Linked DNA regions of Homo sapiens. The protein of the gene in region 2 interacts with the protein of the main gene of each other region in a pairwise test. Each region holds a gene or a part of one and is shown on either strand. Other genes may lie near its edges.

Region 1 (3,500 bases), on a different chromosome or scaffold from region 2:
TAGCCAGAATAGCACCTTGAGTCAGTTTCCATGTCCCAAGGACAATGTGATGAAGGTCAGATGTTCAATTCACCTGCATATGCAGTGGGGTCTGCGCTACAGAGAAGAACTCTGAAATTATGAGACTCAGAGCTTATATAGAATGGTTGACATATGTGGCCCTCCTCCCTTCCAGAGAGAGGAGAGAACCTGGAATGTAAACAAGTCCTCCCTGGGAAGGGGACTTTCACAATCATTGAAGGTAAACAAATGGCTCTGGGGGAAAGAGGAAAGCAGCTCTCTATTTTTAGTAAAGCTTGTCTGCTTCCTTTGCCCAGAATCCTCAAACTGTGCAGGAACTCTGAGAAATCCAGGGTATAATTATCTCCCAACAATAATCCCCAAGGTCTCTTTTAGCTCTGATATTCTATGTCAAAATCCCTTAACCATCCCCAACCTGGCTTCATGTCTCCTCACCTAGTTCTGCAAGTTACAGTAACTGCACCTCAAAGCAAGACCACCCTCTGCTGCTCATCCCAGGGCCTCACCCAACACAAGGGATCAATCCCCTCTCTGATGTCCTATGGGTCATAGACTTAACTCCATCCAATTGGGTAAATCCATTGAGTCATTAATCTTTCCTGTTTGTGTCTTCCCATTCCCAAACCACAGAGCAAGATCCCAGAGGGGAGAAGCCATGCTTTTTTATCTCTCTCCGCCCCAGCAGGCCTCACCCAGTGTTAATGCACAGAGGAGCTACGCAGTGAATCTTCATGAGTGCCTTCCTCTCTGGTGCTTCCCACACAAACTTCCCCCAAAAAACAGCCGACACCTGCCATTTCTGCATCACCGTTAACAGGAGAACTGTGAATTCTCTCTATTTAAGTCTCAATATCCAAGCAGTTGCCACATTCCGACAATTTCTCACCTTTAAACTGCTGCTCCTTCCAACTACCCTAGTCCAGACCCTCATTATCTCATGCTTGGACACCTCTGTGTCCACGCCCAGAGCTCCCAAAATGCCAACTTAGCATTTGGAAGGATCATATATGGAGGCATTCTAAAATAGTTTCCAAAGTTTTTCTAAGACCTACTGAATATTGAGGAGTGGAACCATGATTTCTACATGTATCCAGTCTCTCAGGTGATTCCAAAACAGAGGCAGGTTTAGGAACTACTGGAGCATGTCAGTTCTCTTTTAGTTCACTATAAAAACCTGCCAGATTCAACTTCATAAAATACCACTTACATGAAGGGAGGGTGGTGGTCATAGTTTGGCTCTAAAAGTTTGAAAATTAAAGGTCATCCACCTGTAGAAACCTGTTTTTGCCTTAAAATGCCCACAGGATGAAGACTGAACACCTTTACCAGCATTCAAGTCCCTTTATAAAAAGCCTCTGCTTCACCCAAATTCTTCTTTGAACCTGCTATAAGCTTTCTACACCACTGAGCCTTTCCCCAATGTCATAATCTTCTCCTACTCCTGCTCACCTCCCTCAGGAAGCCCTCCCAGACTTCCTCATTTCTGCTACATGTCAGTAATATTTACAGAGCACTTACCATGATCTACTTTGTGTTGGTATTTATCTGTTATGAAATTAGCTGGTCCAAATGGAAAGGAAGAGACCAAAAAGATCATCGAAAAGCTGTAAGAACTGAGGGAACTATTTATTCCCTCAGAACCTAGATTCTTTCTCTTCAGAATAGAGACTTGGAACAGATGGGATTATAAAGCCCCAGTTAGAACTAAAATGTAGGCATGCCTGAAACCCCTGGTCTAATCATCCTCACCTTTCACTCTCCACCCAATACACATACATGCATTGTACAAATAAGGACCCCATAGAAACCGGTAGGAAACCATGTGCTGGAGCATGAAAGAGCCAGGGTCTCACCTTGTAACTGAAGCTGATGGCATTGTCATAGCCAACCCACTCTTTCCCCTTGTTGGCATACGGGACATACTGGTAATCAATCCAGTGCTTCTTCGCTCCCCAGACAAAGGAACAAATCTGCCAAGAGGACCACCAGGTTAGTTCTGGGAAGTGCCATGGAGATAAGCACCAAGAGACAGTTGTTCCTTGCCCAAGGATAAAGAATCCAAGAATCCCTAACCAGCGAATGAGAAGAAGGTAAACCAAAGAGAGAATGGAGAGGCCACTCACAAATGAGTTCCTCTCTATTTTGAATAAATTCCTACTGTTACCCTTTCCTCTCTCTACTGTCCATGATGGAAAAAAGGGAACCAAAGAGTGGATGACATCCTTAAGAAACCAAGCCAGGGGTATAATGCCAGTACCAAAATAGTAAGAGTAACATACATGATCCTTGACCAAATCTGTATCTCATTCAAAGTGTTTTCATAAACAAGTCTCTCCTGTTCATTAGATCCCAGCACAGACTGCCCCATATAGGTGGTTCTCAAACTAGCACCTGAACTTCTAGTAGATTTAAAGTTCTTGAAGGCAGGGAGAACTAGGTTGCTATAAATAATTAAGCATTTGAGTGTCCACTGAGTGCCCAGCATTGTGCTAAAAACTATATGCTGCAAAAAAGTAGAGGTACGCAAGCTGTGCTGCAGAAGTTAATGTCTAAGCCATTCCTTTTCTCCTTTGGTGCTTCAAAGGGTCTGTCTATCAAAGCTTCTTTGCCCTTCAAGAACATTGTTTCAACTATGCCAGCACTCATAAAAATGCTTCATTGGGTTAGAAAAACACCCTCATCCATCCAGCGCAGAGCAGAGATTGGAGAGACTTGCAGCACCTCCACTACTGCCTAAAGTACTCACCCTGTCCCTCTGTACCTGCTGTCCTCTACCTGGGAAGTCCTTCCCGTCTAGTCATTCCTGTCCATCAGGATTTTCCTGTGCTTCAAACTCTGCTCAAACTCTACCTGCTCCATAAGACCTTTCCAGGTCACTACAGCCACACAGTTATGTGGCTCGTATTGCCACCTCTGGTGGTTACATTCCCTTGGAAACATGTCTCTTTCCGCCACCCAATAGCAAGCTTGGTTGAGACGAAGATGAAGAGGGTAGAGCTGGAGTGGAGAGAAAGAACCTGTAGTAGATAATGTCTTGGAATTGCTTCAAAATCATCTAGTAGTAGGGAGGGAGGGAGCCAGCAGAGATGAGACAAAATTGGCCATGAATTATTAATGATTGAAGCTGAGTGAGTAGTATGTGGGGGAGGTACAGAGGCTATACTATTCTTTTAATTTTGCATATGTTTGAAATTATATATATTGCAAATATTAATGATTTTTATTTAGGCCATACAGAAAGTCAGGGTTTACCTGTATAGCATATAAGATCATTTTTGGGGTGCAATGAAACCCTTCCATCCAGATTCCACCAAGTCCTTCGTCCCTTACAAAGGACTCAAATAACTTACCTCAAAGAAAAAGAAAATATCCCAGAGAGTGGGTTTCTCTTGTACTAATAGACCACCTCTTTGCCCTGTCTACAGCTCTCACCCTTGCCATTGCCCCTTGTCCTGGCCTTTGCTCCAGCTGGGGGTGGG
Region 2 (4,020 bases):
ATTCAAGGGCTGCTCTGAGCAGGTGAGATGCCCTGCACCTCATTCAAGTAGGCAGGGCAGAGGCAGAGGTGCTGTGAGTGATGGTCCTGTTTTCTTGTTGTTTTGTTTTGTTTTTATTTTTAGAGACAAGGTCTCGTTCTGTTGCCCAGACTGGAGTGCAGTGGCATGATCATAGCTCACTGCTGCCTCGATCTCCTGGGCTCAAGCGATCCTCCTGTCTCAGCCTCCTGAGTAGCTGGGACTAAAGGGACATGCCACCATGCCCAGCTAATTTTTAGTTTTTTGTAAAGATGGGGTCTTGTGGCCAGGCGCGGTAACTCACGCCTGTAATCCCAGCACTTTGGGAGGCCGAGGCGGGCAGATCACAAGGTCAGGAGATCGAGACCATCCTGGCTAACACGGTGAAACCCCATCTATACTAAAAATACAAAAAATTAGCCGGGCGTAGTGGTGGGCGCCTGTAGTTCCAGCTACTCAGGAGGGCTGAGGCAGGAGAATGGCATGAACCCAGGAGGCAGAGCTTGCAGTGAGTTGAGATTGCACCATTGCACTTCAGCCTGGGCGACAGAGCGAGACTCCGTCTCAAAAAAAAAAAAAAAGATGGGGTCTTGCTATGTTGCCCAGAGTGGTCTGAAACTCCTGGTTTCAGGCAGTCCTCCTGCCTTGGCCTCCCAAAGGGCTGGGATTACAGATATGAGCCACCATACCTGGCCTGTTTTTTTGTTGTTGTTGTTTTTGAGAAAGAGTTTCGCTCTTGTTGCCCAGGCTGGAATGCAGTGGCGTGATCTCGGCTCACTACAACCTCCACCTCCCAGGTCCAAGAGATTCTCCTGCCTCCCAAGTAGCTGGGACTACAGGTGCCCACCATCACACCCAGCTAATTTTGTGTATTTTTAGTAGAGATGGGGTTTCACCATGTTGGCCAGGCTGGTCTCGAACTCTTGACCTCAGGTGATTCACCCGCCTCAGCCTTCCAAAGTGCTGGGATTACAGGCGTGAGCCACAGCACCTGGCCTGTTGTTTTAAATAAACCAGCTTTACTGAGATATCATTCACAATTTACTCATTTAAAGTTTACACTTTACTGTACAACCATCACCACAACCAATTTTAGAACATTTTCATCACCCCATGAAGAAATTCTGTACTCAAGGCCAGGCACGGTGGCTCAAGTCTTTAATCCCAGCACTTTGGGAGGCCAAGAGGGAAGGATCACTTAAGGCCGGGAGTTTGAGACCAGCCTGAGCCACATAGTGAGACCCTGTTTCTACAAAAAATTTAAAGAATTCGCGGCTGGGCACGGTGGCTCACACCTGTAATCCCAGCACTTTGAGAGTCCGAGGTGGGTGGATCATGAGGTCGGGAGATTGAGACCATCCTGGCTAACATGGTGAAACCCCGTCTCTACTAAAAATACAAAAAATTAGCCGGGCGTGGTGGTGGGCACCTGTACTCCCAGCTACTCGGGAGGCTGAGGCAGGAGAATGGCGTGAACCTGGGAGGCAGAGGTTGCAGTGAGTGGAGATCACGCCACTGCACTCCAGCCTGGGCAACAGAGCAAGACTCTGTCTCACAGGTGGTGCACACCTGTGGTCCTAGCTACTCAGAAAGCTGAGGTGGGAGGATCATTTGAGTCCAGGAGTTTGAGACTGCAGTGAGCTATTACCAAGCCATTGCACTCCAGCCTAGGTGACAGAGCAGGATCTCATCTCTAAAGACAATTTAAAAAGTTAAAAATTTAAAAATTAAGCTGAGCGCAGTGGCTTATGGGTGTAATCCTAGCACTTTGGCAGGCCGACGCGGGCAGATCACCTGAGCTCAGGAGTTCAAGACCAGCCTGGTCAACATGGCAAAACCCATCTCTACTGAAAAAAATACAAAAATTAGCTGGACATGGTGGTGCACACCTGTAATCTCAGCTACTTGGGAGGCTGAGGCACTAGAATCACTTGAACCCAGGAGGCAGAGTTTGCAGTTAGCTCAGATAGCGCCACTACACTCCAGACTAGGTGACAGAGCAAAACCCTGTCTCAAAAAAAAAAAAACAACAACAAACAACAACAACAAAAAATTAAAGAAACCCTGAACTCAGTAGCAGACACTCCCTGTTCCTCCTAGCAGCCCCACACCACCTGCTGGGTGACAATTCTTGTGCCCTTGTTTTCCCCCAAGTCTGCACAACAGGGGTCACAGGGAGTTGAGGAAGAGGAGGGGTCTCTGACAACACATGGAGACTTCTCAGCAGCTCTTCGTCCAGGTCTGCAAGGAACAAATCCAGTCCCAAAGACACCAGGTCCCAGAAGCCAAAGCCTGAAATGAGGCCAGCAGGAGGCAGCCTTTGGCTCTGTCTTTTGCCAGATGGGCTGGATGGGGAGGCGAAGCTTAGGATGGGGGATCTGGGGGACAGGCAGTGTGGGGAGTGACTCTGGCTGCTCCAGGCACAGCCAAGCTAGCTGTGCTTGGCTTAGCTTCCTGCCTTCAAATCTGCAAATGGTGAGTTTTCTTTTTTTTTTTTCTTTTTTTTTGAGACAGGAGTCTCGCTCTGTAGCCCAGGCTGGAGTGCAATGGCGCGATCTCGGCTCATTGCAACCTCCTCCTCCCGGGTTCAAGCAGTTCTTCTGCCTCAGGCTCCCGAGTAGCTGGGATTACAGGCGCACACCACCACATTGCCTAATTTTTGTATTTTTAGTAGAGACAGAGTTTTCCCATGTTGGCCAGGCTGGTCTCGAACTCCTGACCTCAGGTGATCCACCCACCTCGGCCTCCCAAAGTGCTGAGATTACAGGCGTGAGCCACCGCACCCAGCCCCACGAAGGGTTAGTCTTCTCTGCCTGCTGAGCTAGACTGGCATGGGAGTATTGGGGCCTGCAGGAAATGGCCCACTCCTGGCTGCTCTGCCTCGATCCTGGAGTTCTGGGATGCCCCTGTCCCCCAGGGCCTGGCACCCCCACGCTGTTCACCCCTGCCCCCTAGGTCTCCTGTTCAGGCTTCCATCACACCTCTGTCTGCCCCCTGGGTGTCCCTGTAGGACTCACGCCTCTGCCCGATCCACCATGGTCCTAATGAGCTCCCAGAGGAGGCCCGAGAGCGTGGAGCAGGTCTGCCGCATCCACAGCCTGAGGTCTGTGACCACCTGTGCAAGGAGGAGATGGTGCTCAGGGAGGCCGATGTGTTGCTTCCCTGAGGAGCCAGGACCGCTGCAGAACTCTAACTGCCCCCTGGGCTCCTCAAGGTTGGGACAACACGGAGCAGGGGGTGGAGGGGCTAAAGCACCTGGTCATTCCGGCTCCGTCCCGTGTGCAGCTTCCCTGCCGTTGCACCAATGAGCTCCTGGAGGTGAAGGGAGACCCAGGGTCACGGTCTATACCCCCAGAGGAGTCAACCCAGGCAGGGCAGTTTTCCTCATCAGCCCTGCCAACCTACCTCCATACCCCAGGGCTCCGGGTCCTCCCCAAATCTCTCGCCATTTCTGCTGAGGCCTGTTCTTTTTTTCTTTTCTTTTTTTAATTTTTGTAGCTGTGGGACCTCATTATGTTGCCCAGGCTGGTCTCGAACTCCTGGTCTCAAGCAATCCTCCCACCTCAGCCTCCCAAAGTGCTAGGATTATAGGCATGAGCCAGGGTGCCTGGCTCATGTCCTGAGGTCTCACATGCTGTCTGCCAATGGCGAAGTAAACAGAATGGTGCTAATGCTCAAAGTGGCCCTGGGCAAGGTGGAGAGGGGAGGCAAGGAAAGCGGTGGGGCTCCAGGGGTCGTACCTTCAGGCGGCGCTCATTGGCTGTGTGGATGTCCTCATCATTGGAGTTCAGTTTGAAGGTGCCCTGGGCCCACTCCTCAGCCACCTGTAGTGGGTAGCAGCAATGCCGGGGTCAGGTGAGCAGGCATCAGCAGCCAAGAGAGCCCCTGCCTTGGTCCCACCCTATCCCTGGTGACTGACTGTCCCTGCCCAGGAGCTGAGTCCTGGAAGCGCACCCTGGGAGGGGGCATCTCAGGCCCAGCACACCTTTACCCATGAGCCAT

The links.
Region 1: the proteins of ASL (region 2) and OVGP1 interact in a two-hybrid assay, tested with the Homo sapiens proteins (one large-scale study listed by BioGRID and IntAct).

What each region holds. Positions count from the first base shown.
Region 1 is NC_000001.11:111,417,736-111,421,235, forward strand, and holds part of OVGP1 (oviduct-specific glycoprotein precursor), read right to left. Parts: intron 1,994-3,500; exon of another isoform or gene 1,992-1,993; coding exon 1,875-1,991; exon of another isoform or gene 1-1,874. UniProt on the Homo sapiens protein: Binds to oocyte zona pellucida in vivo. May play a role in the fertilization process and/or early embryonic development.
Region 2 is NC_000007.14:66,082,190-66,086,209, reverse strand, and holds part of ASL (argininosuccinate lyase), read right to left. Parts: intron 3,843-4,020; coding exon 3,759-3,842; intron 3,331-3,758; coding exon 3,274-3,330; intron 3,134-3,273; coding exon 3,036-3,133; intron 1-3,035.